Linked DNA regions of Homo sapiens. The protein of the gene in region 3 purifies or fractionates together with the protein of the main gene of each other region. This does not show direct contact. Each region holds a gene or a part of one and is shown on either strand. Other genes may lie near its edges.

Region 1 (3,500 bases), on a different chromosome or scaffold from region 3:
GAGGCTGAGGCAGGAGAATGGCATGAACCCGGGAGGCAGAGGCTGAAGTGAGCTGAGATTGCGTCACTGCACTCCAGCCTGGGCAACATAGCGAGACTCCGTCTCAAAAAAAAAACAAAAGAAAGAAAAGAAAGGTGTTCCAGATTTCTGGTTTTTTTCAGAGTTTGAAATACTTGCATACGTATAATGAGATATCTTGGGGATGAGATCCAAGTCTAAACACAAAATCCATTTATGTTTCATATACAGTTTATATACATAGCCTGAAGGTAATTTTATACAATTTTTATTTTATTTTATTACTTTATGTCTGAGATGGAGTTTCACTCTTGTTGCCCAGGCTGGAGTGCTCGGCTCACTGCAACCTCTGTCTCCCGGGTTCAAGCAATTCTCCAGCCTCAGCCTCCCGAGTAGCTAGGATTACAGGCGCCTACCACCATGCCTGACCAATTTTTGTATTTTTAGTAGCGACGGTGTTATGCCATGTTGGCCAGGCTGGTCTGGAACTACTGACCTCAGGTGATCCACCCGCCTCAGCCTCCCATGTGCTAGGATTACAGGTGTCCAGCCAACATAAGTTTAATTTTGTTTTGTTTTTTTCAGACAGTCTCACTCTGCCACCTAGGCTGGAGTGCAGTGGCACAATCTCAGCTCATTGCAACCTCTGCCTCCCAAGCTGAAGCAATTCTTGTGCCATAGCCGCCTGAGTAGCCGGGATTATAGGCGTGTGGCCCAGGCTCAAGCAATTCTCATGCCACAGCCTCCCAAGTAGCTGGGATTACAGGCGTGCGCCACCATACCCAGCTAATTTTTGTATTTTTTAATAGAGACAGGGTTTCTCCATGTTGGCCAGGCTGGTCTTGAACTCCTCAAGTGATCCGCCCACTCTCTGTAACCTCTGCGTCCTGGGCTCAATTGTCCTGCCTCAGCCTCCTAAGTAGCATGGAGGCCAGTGCCACCATGTCCAGCTAATTTTTGTATTTTTAGTAGAGACAGGTTTCGCTGTGTTGGCCAGGCTGGTCTTGAACTCCTGGCCTCGAGCAATCCACCCACCTCGGCCTCCCAAAGTTCTGGGATTACAGGCATGAGCCACCATGTCCGTCCTGAGTACTTTTTTATATTAGTGATTTTTCATCTTTTATTTCTTGTTCTCTAAATAACAGTCATCTACTGTATAGTATAATACATACTTAGAAGCTCCCAAATCACATATGGAAACTCAAACAGGAGACTTAAGGGGCTTTCGATCTTAACCAGCTAAAAATTACTATAAAGTCTCTAATTACATCTTATGATCATTGGGTATTTTACTGCATTTTGCCTCATTTATTTTTAGTGAGAGGAAAACAGAAAAACAGAAGCGGTGGTATTAATTATATGGAGAAAAAGAACTAAATGTCTCTGATTTAATACAGTTGAGCCCAAGATGGAAATTATCAGCTAAGAGGTGAATATTTAAGTTTCATTTGGACATTCATAGGACATAAAGCTGGTCAGTCATGTATTTTCATTGTGAAGAAAACAAAATAAAAACGATGTACAAAATGCTAGATACAAATGGTTGGACAAACAACACTACTGTACAGAAGACACTGTCAACACCAAGCTGTCAGCTCTCAGGCTGCAACACCAGCCACACCATAGCTCAAAATGTACAGCAAAGTCTAAACTCAATGTACAGAGAAAGGCAATTTGTGGGAGTCAGTGTATTCTTTAGGAAACTGTGGGCTCTGTCAGCCAGTACCAACGCCTTAAAAAAGAGAAGTCACACACTTATCTCAAGAACCACAATTGCCCTCTCCCTCTCCCTCTCCCTCTCCCTCCCCCTCCCCCTCCCCGGTCTCCCCCTGATGCCGAGCCGAAGCTGGACTGTACTGCTGCCATCTCCGCTCACTGCAACCTCCCTGCCTGATTCTCCTGCCTCAGCCTGCCGAGTGCCTGCGACTGCAGGCGCGCGCCGCCACGCCTGACTGGTTTTCGTATTTTTTTGGTGGGGACGGGGTTTCACTGTGTTGGCCAGGCTGGTCTCCAGCTCCTAACCGCGAGTGATCTGCCAGCCTCGGCCTCCAGAGGTGCCGGGATTGCAGACGGAGTCTCGTTCACTCAGTGCTCAATGTTGCCCAGGCTGGAGTGCAGTGGCGTGATCTCGGCTAGCTACAACCTCCACCTCCCAGCCGCCTGCCTTGGCCTCCCAAAGTGCCAAGATTGCAGCCTCTGCCTGGCCGCCACCCCGTCTGGGAAGTGAGGAGCGTCTCTGCCTGGCTGCCCATCGTCTGGGATGTGAGGAGCCCCTCTGCCCGGCTGCCCAGTCTGGGAAGTGAGGAGCGCCTCTTCCCGGCCGCCATCCCGTCTAGGAAGTGAGGAGTGTCTCTGCCCGGCCGCCCATCGTCTGAGATGTGGGGAGCGCCTCTGCCCTGCCGCCCCGTCTGGGATGTGAGGAGCGCCTCTGCCCGGCCGCGACCCCATCTGGGAGGTGAGGAGCGTCTCTGCCCGGCCGCCCCGTCTAAGAAGTGAGGAGCCCCTCCGCCCGGCAGCCGCCCCATCTGAGAAGTGAGGAGCCCCTCCGCCCGGCAGCCGCCCCGTCTGAGAAGTGAGGAGCCCCCCCATCCGGCAGCCGCCCCGTCTGGGAAGTGAGGAGCGTCTCCGCCTGGCAGCCGCCCCGTCCAGGAGGGAGGCGGGGGGCAGCCCCCGCCCGGCCAGCCGCCCCATCCGGGAGGGAGGTGGGGGCGCCTCCGCCCAGCCGCCGCCCCGTCCGGGAGGTTGGGGGCACCTCTGCCCGGCCACCCCTTCTGGGAAGTGAGGAGCCCCTCTACCCGGCCGCCACCCCGTCTGGGAGGTGTACCCAACAGCTCATTGAGAACGGGCCATGATGACGATGGCGGTTTTGTCGAGTGGAAAGGGGGGAAATGTGGGGAAAAGATAGAGAAATCAGATTGTTGCTGTGTCTGTGTAGAAAGAAGTAGACATAGGAGACTCCATTTTGTTCTATACTAAGAAAAATTCTTCTGCCTTGGGATGCTGTTGATCTATGACCTTACCCCCAAGCCGGTGCTCTCTGAAACATGTGCTGTGTCCACTCAGGGTTAAATGGATTAAGGGCGGTGCAAGATGTGCTTTGTTAAACAGATGCTTGAAGGCAGCATGCTTGTTAAGAGTCATCACCACTCCCTAATCTCAAGTACCCAGGGACACAAACACTGCGGAAGGCCGCAGGGTCCTCTGCCTAGGAAAACCAGAGACCTTTGTTCACTTGTTTATCTGCTGACCTTCCCTCCACTATTGCCCTATGACCCTGCCAAATCCCCCTCTGCGAGAAACACCCAAGAATGATCAATTAAAAAAAAAAAAAAGAAAGAAAAAAAAAAAAGAACCACAATTACAGCATGTCATTAACTCTTTAATAAACATAGAATCTGCTTAAGAGTTTTTTGTTTTTTGTTTTTTCAGCGCCCTCACTCTGTTGCCCAGGCTGGAGTGCAGTGGCACAATCATGGCTCACT
Region 2 (3,500 bases), on a different chromosome or scaffold from region 3:
GTTACCAATAATATGCTGAGGGATATACAGACATGCCATCAAAACTTCTCACGACCTATACAGAAACTAACAATTATTATCCTCATTTTGCAAAGAAAAGTAAATGTAAGCTGAACAAGGCTAAGACAGTTTACTGATGACACCAGACATTAAATGATTCAGCTGAAATTCCAAAGCCTATATTCCTTCCTCTGTATTACGGCCCTTCCCACACTTTGACACTCATCCTGTCATCTCTCAGCCCCCACAGCATGACATTCCCGAGGTTATCAGAGAAAATGAACCATTTCTTGATGAGTAGTCTAAGTAAAAACGGAAAAAATTGCATTACAGGATAATTCAACATTGTTAAAACAGGATATGGATGATGTATCAAAAATGCATGGCACTCTGAACCTGTGGTTTGCCTCTGGAAATAGTCTATCTATTGTAAGAAAAGCTCTATTAAAAACTAAATTTCTTTACAAGGTTTACCTTTCAAATCCAGATTTTTGGCACCATTGATAACCTGAGTGACCACTTTGGTGTCCACTTTCAGGCTATGAGTGTTACTATTGTCCCGAGTGATGACGACATTGTGCCACTGGTTGTCATTCAGGGGGCGGTCACTGTTGCCTTTGATCACATTGGGACCGTTTCCGAGGTCAAAAACGTAGTGTATATACCTAGGAAGAAAAAAAAAAAAAAACAATAATTGGAAAATCCCCGAAGTGGTTTAATGGCTATATGTGTGTAACTGACATAGTGGGCTTCAAATCCCCCATGCTAAACTGGCATAATGCAGGAATAATTTAAATCTTGATATGAGGTTACAAGAATAGTCAGATTTTATTCTATCATGCTTCACTATAATTCCATACTCATCGAGTCCACTTCATTAACACTACCTACTAATACTCTCCAGAGTCAAAGTAGCACAGGTTGTACACTACAAAACATAAGGGGGTGACTTTTAAATTCATCATCAACCATTAATCTGTTTTGGTTTTTGTTTTGGTTTTTTGTTTTGACTATTTTCTAATACATGGTAGTAAAATGTCTTGAGGAAAGGGCAGCTTCTAAAAACTTGCATATATGGGCTAATGGTAGGATTTAAAATATTTATGTTTCATCTTTTGGTATAAATTGGGTGGTTGTAGTTAGTAATACTCAAGAATTAGATGCAATACAAATCATAGCCCTCTTTTGCAAAAATAAGCTTTTCTTCAATAGTTTTAAAGGGCTACATTTCATAGGAAAAAGTCTGTTAGTGTTGAGTTAGTGGAAGACCTTTAAATTAAATCATGAGCCTCTCTCCTTTCCAGACCTAATAATTTTATGGATCCATTTAATCAAGGAAGATGCGAGAATGTGTCAGGAATGGAGGGTAGGGAGTAGAATAGACAAGTTATTTTTATGTCCATATTTTACGTAGAGCTTCAGTAGATTAAAGGTGTCCAACATAAGTCGTGATCCCTTCTACTTACCCCTTGACAAGCTCGACTGCAATGAAGTCATTGCCATCACCACTATTGAAGAGAATGAAGCCATCTGGTGAGGTGGTCTTGAACTGGAAGAAGAGGTGCATGGAGGTGTAAGCCTGAAGAGTGGCAAGGCTCAGGTAGCTGCTCTTGGTCTTAAAGGTGACAGGGTCAGCGATGATGTTCCTCAGTCCAAAACGAGCCTTCAGCTCACAATAATCAATGTCACCATTTTTGCACAAGTCAATGTAGAGAAGGCCATTAAACATGAGGCTCTGCAGATGGCCAATAAAGCTGGAGGGGACAACGGAGATGTAGCGTTTCTCAGTCATGATTCCCGTTTCAATGTTGTGGAACTCCAAACGGGTATGGTCTCCCACCATTGTACCTGTGAAAATTGTAAATGAGGTACAAACAGAAAAGTTACCATCATTTATCACAGCACCCTCAAGTATATTTTTTGGGTGTAACCTGTTTCCACACAGAATATTCAGCTTTCTTGGGTGAGTTCAAGAAAACCAAATATTCAATATGGTAGATACCTTACTTGGCCTCAATCAGGCATTGCCCAAATTACATGCTGTCACGCAGCTGCTCAGCACGGCTCATCATATAAGGGGAAATATGAGGTCATGAGTAACCCAGGCTAAAGGATAAAACTATTGATATTCTCCATTCAGGAGAATCACTGGACACTAATACACACTATAAGAAGAAAGGCCTTTGTTGCTCTGACCCTTGTAAAGACACAACACACAAGTCTTGGGCATCACTACCAAGTATTTTTTCTCGTAATAACTCTCCACTTAGTACTCGTGGGAAGGATTCTATTATAGACTTATCAGTTGAGTTTACCTGCCCAGCAACTGTTACTTTATCTTATAATAACACGTAATTTTTCTTTAGGAAGCTACCCACCCCTCTTGACCTTTCAACCACCTGGACTGGATAAAGTTGACCCTAATCAAGCTACTCAGCCTAGACCACTCAATGTACTTTACCCCCCTAACTGTCACAGACTTTGGACTACAGACTTAAAAAGCGGTCATTACACTTTAGGGTGTATCAGAATCACCTGGGGGGCTTAGGCCCTCAGAGTTTAGAATTCAAAAGTCTGGGGTGAGGCCTGAGAATCTGCATTTCTAACAAGTTTCACAGTGATGCTCTTGTGGCTGATTTAGGGACCACCCTTAGAACTGGCAACAACCCAAGCCATCCCGGCCACACTCAGTTCCAGAGCTCTTGCTGGTACACTTAGGAAAGAGGATTCTTTGCAAGCAAGGACTGCTGGAGGGGTAAGAAGAAAGCTTTGAGTCCCTAGAGGCTATAAGAAAATCAGAGGGATCAGAGGACTAGCAACCCAGAAGACAATTACCAAATGAAGAGAATCATCTGTGCTGTCCTTTGAGACTCTGGATCAAGCCAGGCACCTCCCGGCTTTTTCAAACTGTGTGGCAATAGACTCCCTTTCATGCTTAAAGCGTTTGAGTTGGGTTTCTGACATTCACAACGGAAATATCTTCAGCTGTTACAAATGAACTATTTAGAACTTGTATTACCTATTTTACCTAGAAGTGGTGAGTGACTAGGGCAGAGGGGATAAGGAGGGCTTGAAAAAAAAATACAAAGAGACTGGAAATTTTAATAACAAAATAAAGAAAAACATCATTAATGTGGCCAGAGTAGAAATTGGCTTCCTCAACATTTATATAGAAAAATCATGTTAAAACATAACAAACCATGTTCTACTGCCAAGCATTAGAGGGGGAATTCTTTCTTCCTGTCCTCTCTTGTTACCTTCTACATTGAAAAAACTCCATTAGCAAGACTGATAGCATCTCTTTATTTCCTCTTTAACAACTTTCCTGAAGAAGTGACATAATCAGAAATATTAAGGATGATCTGCAAAGAGAAGCTGTGTATGCTTAGCTCAGCCCCTAACACCTCCTGTTTCTCTTTGCTGGAGCAAGCTGCCTTCAGAAATGTCCATTCTACTGCATGCATCCATAGAATGGGTGTTACAGGAGCAAGCCTTGCTTC
Region 3 (3,500 bases):
GCTGGGGTAAGGAATTAGAGAAGGGAAGGCCAGTGTTACTGCAGTAAGAGAAAACCAGGAAGTCCATCTAGGAGATGAAATTTGTGCTTGCATAACAGAGCCATGGAAATGGCTATCCCAGCATCTCCCCTCACTGCAGACTCCATTGTAAGCAAAGCATGGACCTTTTTCTTTGAAACCAACCCTGTCACTTGTTAAATTTAGAATTACCTCTAAATGCTAAGTTTATTTAAGAGGTAAATGTCCTGCTATTTTCAGAATGGAGAAAAAAAAAAAAAAACAACCTTCTGCTTCTAGAATTTTGTGCCCTACTTGTCACTGAAGGAGGCAGGCTCCGAAAGTTCTCTTATAGCTTCTGATTATCACAGTCCTGGCTTCCAACACCTGTGTTCGCCATAGATCTGGACATTATGTGCTTCCTCTGAACTAGTGTCTTGATTTTTAAGGCACATTCACTAGAGTATGTTCAATTTCAACCAAAAGCATACGTGCAACATACCAGTTTTTTCAGGCAATGCAGAGCGGGAACTGAAAAGCTAACAACATTCTTGGATGGTGTCCTCTGACTCAGAACCCTGAGAGAAAAAGCTGGTATCTTCCCAGGTATACCTTCTGTTCAGAGAGCATGAGATGAATGGACAAAATCCACAGGCGATCATAACAACATCCTTATTCCTTTCCTACTCATTCATTCTCAGGAATATAATCACAATTAAGAAACCTCAGTTGATTGCTGATTGCCCTTTTCCCCAAATAAACACACAGACGCACAGACACACACATACACAGACGGACACAGAGCACCTTGGAGCCAGAAGGAAAGGAAAGCTAGACTTGGAGAAGAGTTGGGGAAGTGAACTTCACCACTCTGCAGAATTGTTCTGGGGCAGAGGGTGTAGAGTTTTGGGGTGTGGCCCCAGAAGCGGTTACAGAGAAGCTGCCTAAACTCACTCCCAACTGCCCAATACCATTAGGGACTGCTCATTCTGTCATTAATTCCCTGCCCAAAGACCATCCATCCAGGTAGAGGGTATGAAGGGCAAGAACTCTTATTGTGGGAGAGGCTGAACCCAGGTGGTTTCTAGGGGCCCTAGCAGCTTTACGAGTCCATGCACCCATGGCCCCAGGGCCAGTGGTCAAGGAAAACCAGGATCACCAGGAGTGCACTCAGCTACTGATGCTTGTCATTCAATGCCTGACAGAGTTTTGTGGCTGAGGCTATCCTTCTCCACACTTAGGCTAGAAAGCTCAGCCTGTCTTTCCTGACTCCACCAAAAGATCCAGCCAACTCCCTCTTTGTGCTACAGGAGAAAGCAGAGGCCAAGAGTTTTCCTTTGTGCTTCTGATTTTTCCACTGCCACCGGGGTCTCCGTCTCACCAGAACTCAGAACCAGCCTGTTCTATCTTAAAATCATAGATCCAGAGAAATAGCTTGACCTAACATTAGAGACGATCTAGTTTCCATCATCTCAAATGTCACCATGAAGATCTCTTCTCCTTAAAGGCAGGGAAGGGCTAAACTGGAACTATAGAAAGGAGGATGGCACCATGGTATCTCGCCAGCGCTGGCACAAAGTTCTAGTGCCCTCTAGAAACTGGACCATGTTGCAAAAGCTAATCGTTGGAGGGGGTCTCTCACAGAGATGTACGGCCGAGGTGTGGGCAGATCCTGCTAGGACAGGTATGCCTTGCTTTAAGCATTCAACATAGGAAAATCTAGATTACAAAGAAATGAGAGCATATTACTTCTACTTAAGTCAAAACAAGTCCTTCACCTATAAAGCCTAACACGTTTAAAATACAACTTCTATTTTAAAAAATTTCTACTTAGCTTTTCCAAACATCTACTCTAAAGCAAGGTACGACCCCTGCTTGCTTCCCACCAATTTCAGATCTCTATCTGGGCAAGAAGCCTCCACCAGGGTAAATGACAAATGAGCAAAAGCTTGAGCTTACAGTTCCCAAGCCTGCAGGGTGGATGGTGCCATCCAAGGAGAAATAGCGGTAGTGGAGGGAGTTAGGCTCAGGCCCAGCCCCAGAACCTTTATGCACTCTCTCCCACCTAGACCGAGAAGTGTGCAGCAGCCGTACTAAGGCCTGCTTACTGCTGAGTAGCCCTCGCGGAGGGGCCAGACACAGGCCAATCCTGGATCATACTCACGTGCAAAAAGCCAGACAACTTTCAACAGGGAACTGCCTGATTTCCTACTGGAATGGTTTCAATCTAATTTATCAACTCTGATGCTTCTAAGTCTCTGAATCGGGGGAAGTGGGGAGGGCATGCAGAATGGGCCCCCAGGAGGCCAGAGATACTAGTTTCTTGGGGGACAGTGGGAACAAAGAAATCAAGAGAACTTGAAGTTCTGAATGCTGCCATTAACCAGCTAGGTGACCCAGGGCAAGCCCCATTTTCTGAGTGTGACTCACCTAAAGCAACAAGGTTGTACTAGATTCCTAAGGGTCCTGCCACTGCTGATCTCTTGTGGTTCTAAAATATTCCCTGCTTTATTCACCCTGTCCCATTCCCTCCCAAGAACCTACATGGTTACCAACCATGACTTGGCTGACAGCAGTGAGAAAGTTGGGTCTTTCCAGAGAGAGAGAGAGAGGAGAGATTCTTCAAGGAGCATGCCATGGCTTGGGAATGGTTCTCTGGCAGCAGGATTCCCAGGCATGCCTAGCTGTGTGCAGTCAGGCTGGTGACCTGGACCCCATTTGTGTTTCCTGGGGGTTGTGCTGGGCTGCTCAGCAGAGAGCTCCTGGGGAAGCTGACAGGACTCCCAGAACAACCCTGATCCAGGGACCCTGTTCATGCACTTCTGCATGCTGAGCCTGTGTCTTGCAGGGCCCATCCACCAAGACAGCCCTGAGAGCTGGGTTCCTACTGCCTCTGTGAGACACAGCAAACCTGGAGAAATCAAATGCGCTAGAAACCTAGCCACCAGCTGATTCCCATAGCCACAGCAAGCCAGGCACCTGCAATCCTGACAGGGTCCTGCCACTTACCTGTCCCCACCACCCTCCCAACTTCTCTCAGGCTTGAGTGAGGCCTTCTGAAGTTGAAGGGCTTTCTGCAGTTGTTTAAGGGCCAGGCTTGGCCACCAAGCCCTTTGCTACATAAAGTTGATGTGGCCTTCATACATACACACATTCACTGTGCCCCTACCTGCTGGAGTACCCATTGCCATCTGACTCCTTGGCTGAGCGGACGACTGGGCCACAGCAGCCCTGCAGTGTGCTTCCTCTCCCTCTATGCCTCTTGCGGCCTTCCCAGCTGAAGAGGTTGCTCAGCTTGGTAAGTACGACTACAACACACTACTACCCCAAGGGTGGGAGTGTGTGTTGATCTCGTGGCATGGAAAGAATTATTCTCATCCCTTCACACCCACCCACCCGCTCTCCACTACTCCCCTGCCTCAGTAGCAGAGGCAAAGGAGCCAGTTCCTGGCTGGCTGGGCCAGGGAGCCCACTGAGGGCCAAAGCTTCATCTGGCGGAAGGC
Region 4 (3,082 bases), on a different chromosome or scaffold from region 3:
CTGTCCCATTTGTGAACCACAGTCACACTTTATTTTTCTCTTTTTATGGTACTTAACGTTCATACTTTAGCTATTTTGTATTTCCTGTGATATTGGAAGTTCCTTAAAGGTAGGGACTTGGTCTTTATCATTTCTGAGTCTTCACAGTCTTTTTTACATAAAAAGCACACAATACTTGCTGAATTGAAATGAAATTTTAAAGTTTTTCCTTTGCGAATAGACTTAATAATGGGCAAGATTTAGTGATTACCTTCAGAAACCTGACTAAGGCCATGTAAACTTATAGAGAGCTGAGAGTAGCCAGAATCTTCATAAAATATTCCACTATCAGTTCTTGATTGCCGACGAATGAATGGTTGACCTTCATCTTCCCAGCCCATCAGTGGCTGTTGTTCACTTCTCTCCATAGCTTTGGCAAGACAGGCGCAGCAAGGACTGCATTTCTTTATAATATATTGGTTAATTTTAATGTCAAAACACAGCACCAAAACATACAATCCATATATCAAAAGCAGTAAAGCCCCTTCATACCTACAAAAGAGAAATTTGTGTTTTTAAATTAAAAGTGAAAGTCATTTTAGAGTTGATAGCTTTTGGGCAGTATCTATTGAATGATTTTCTAACAAAAGTAGCCATAGAACAATCAAACATTTCTAGATATTTTTTGTTTTGTAGATTTGTCCAGACTTGATTACAGCATTATTATGTTTATTGATAAAAGCTGGACACTTCTGTGTTGTTTTTTTTTTTTTAAAAACAAGATCAACAAACTCGTTTTTACTTGTAGATTCCTTCCAAATGATAGGTATAAAAATGCAAGGAAAATGATAATTGGAGATTTTCAAAATAAATGTAAAATTAATAAATAGTGGTGAACATTTTCTGCCTCAGCTCATTGGCATAATACATTCCCCAACATACATAATAATTATAAAATAATATAGTAACTGTTAAGTTATTTCAACTGTCCAAGTTTTCTGGTATAGGAACTTTGTGTAAAATATTACTCAGATATGGGAGGCTTAGGCTGGGATTTTTCAGTTTGTCATACAGAGCATTTTTAATGATTTGAATGTAGCTGAATTTGGCTTACAGTCACAAGAAAACAAGATGTTCTAAAATATAAAATTATACCCTTGGAACCAAGAACTGTTTCCCTGTACTCTGGCAGTTAGCTAATGCCATCACATTTGAACCTTGCATTTACCTTTTATAGCCAGTGAATCTCTGTCTGCTGTATCTTAAAGAACAGTTCTGATTTCCCTAATGGAGGAAGAATTAGCTTGGATACTCTCACAGTCACTATCCCTTACAGACAACTGCTGAGTTCTAGAAGGATTTCTATTCTACCAACACAGTGTCTTAGGGAGACGGACTAGAGGACAGGATGATTAGTTTAGAAATTATGCTTCTGGCTAGGTTTTAAGTTTCTTGATAGCAGGTATTACGCCGTGCTGCAAGGTTATGGTTCTCCAGATGGACACCATTACATTTTTTTTTTTTCATATTTTTCTGGTGTCCTCTGGAGTTATGCAATGTATATAACCTGTGTAGCTGTGTTTTACATTTCATTATCCCTTATGATATCTAGCATAGTGAGAAGGACCTAGTAGGTGCCTGCTGCTTACTAGTTGAAAAAGTTAGTATCTGTCCACTCAGTCACCACCTTTTTCATTTTCTTGGACCAGCTAGGCACAGAGAGATTGTAAGGAAAGCAAACAATTTTTAATATGAAAAGCTAAGCATTGTTATTTCTTAGAGGAAGGCTATAGTTTCTCCTGAATGAGCATCAGAAGTTTGGAGGAATTTAAAAAGACTTCTTTTACTTCCTCTACCATCCTTCTCCAGTCTTTTGTGGCCATGAACACTTCTAACCAAGGCAAGGTGAGCAGTAACCCAGCAGAAGAAAAAGTCAACTGTTGTGGCTTTAATGGACAACAGGAGTTGGGAAACTTTCTGAATAGGCAGCCAGTGGGGAGAAGGAAAAGTGGTGGTCTCCAGTGACTAGTGAGAGAAAAAAGGAGACTGTGAAGTGATTAAGAAGAAATTGCAAACTAGTGAGAAGAACTCAATCAGCAATTGTGATGAGGTTAACTCACAGACCTGTTGGAATATGGTATAGAAGTGGCAGATTAAGTGACTGAAATAACATTTCTGAAAAAAAATTACTGAACCATCAGAAATTCATAAAATCTCTAATTTTTACATAAGAATTATTTTCAAGCTTACCAGTAAACTTGGTTGTCATATATTATACCAAGAACTGCTGCTGCACTAATTGTGTACGCTGCACAGTCTCTGAATAGGGGCCAACATGATAGTGTTGAGACCTGTAATATGGTAAGTTATTATTTCCATTACATTGTAACTTCTTCAAGTACAATCCTTAGTATAATACTAAAATTGTTTATATATTTGTAGTTAAATATTGTTATCTTTTGCATATTGCTTAGAGAAAAAAATGTAAAATTGTGTTCTAACTTACACAGACTTTCATAAATCTGACCAAGAGCTATTTGTGGATTAACATTAAATTGAATACATGTTGTTTTTCTACTGATTAATAAATTTGATTGCACATATTATTAGTGCCCTGTTGTCCATCCCAGACGACGAACAGTTATCTTTAGAATTTTTTAAGACAATACATTTTGTTGAATGGTTTTGTTACATACCGTATTAGATAGCAAACCACAGGCAGCACAGATGCCAAGGAGATTATAAATTGCAGATCCAAGGATGGTGCTAATGCCAATATCTCCCTTTGTGATAAATACACCTATGTGCAAGATAGTACCAGCTAAGTTAGTGTTAACTTGAAGAAAATAAAAATCACACTGAGTAAGCAAGAAGTATAAGGAGCAATATTTACCTAGGAAAGCAGTAACTAATTCAGGAGCTGAACTGCCCGCTGCCATGAAAGTTGTGCCTGCAACATCCTGAGACAATCCAAGGGCTGAACATAAATGAAATGATTGTTATGCCTAATAAAGTGAAAGAGTATGTCTTTACAACTAAACACAATAGATACTCAAAGCTACAGCTTCACATAAAACCACTATTAAACTAGAAAAATAAAATA

Evidence for each region. Proteins that work in one complex are often made in the same cells at the same time.
Region 1: the proteins of TUB (region 3) and RPF2 purify together in Homo sapiens (affinity purification with mass spectrometry; one large-scale study listed by BioGRID and IntAct). This does not show direct contact.
Region 2: the proteins of TUB (region 3) and NRXN3 purify together in Homo sapiens (affinity purification with mass spectrometry; one large-scale study listed by BioGRID and IntAct). This does not show direct contact.
Region 4: the proteins of TUB (region 3) and MYEF2 purify together in Homo sapiens (affinity purification with mass spectrometry; one large-scale study listed by BioGRID and IntAct). This does not show direct contact.

What each region holds. Positions count from the first base shown.
Region 1 is NC_000006.12:111,016,538-111,020,037, reverse strand, and holds part of RPF2 (ribosome production factor 2 homolog), read right to left. Parts: intron 1-3,500. UniProt on the Homo sapiens protein: Involved in ribosomal large subunit assembly. May regulate the localization of the 5S RNP/5S ribonucleoprotein particle to the nucleolus.
Region 2 is NC_000014.9:78,964,373-78,967,872, reverse strand, and holds part of NRXN3 (neurexin 3), read right to left. Parts: intron 1,849-3,500; coding exon 1,467-1,848; intron 666-1,466; coding exon 475-665; intron 1-474. UniProt on the Homo sapiens protein: Neuronal cell surface protein that may be involved in cell recognition and cell adhesion. May mediate intracellular signaling. Functions as part of a trans-synaptic complex by binding to cerebellins and postsynaptic GRID1.
Region 3 is NC_000011.10:8,101,711-8,105,210, reverse strand, and holds part of TUB (tubby protein homolog), read right to left. Parts: 3' UTR 1,717-3,500; coding exon of another isoform or gene 1,694-1,716; 3' UTR 1-1,693. UniProt on the Homo sapiens protein: Functions in signal transduction from heterotrimeric G protein-coupled receptors. Binds to membranes containing phosphatidylinositol 4,5-bisphosphate. Can bind DNA (in vitro). May contribute to the regulation of transcription in the nucleus.
Region 4 is NC_000015.10:48,134,132-48,137,213, reverse strand, and holds the end of MYEF2 (myelin expression factor 2), read left to right. Parts: 3' UTR 1-250; coding exon of another isoform or gene 251-531; 3' UTR 532-2,229; coding exon of another isoform or gene 2,230-2,330; 3' UTR 2,331-2,582; downstream 2,583-3,082. Other genes in the region: SLC24A5 (sodium/potassium/calcium exchanger 5), read right to left, coding at 251-531, 2,230-2,330, 2,676-2,956. UniProt on the Homo sapiens protein: Transcriptional repressor of the myelin basic protein gene (MBP). Binds to the proximal MB1 element 5'-TTGTCC-3' of the MBP promoter. Its binding to MB1 and function are inhibited by PURA.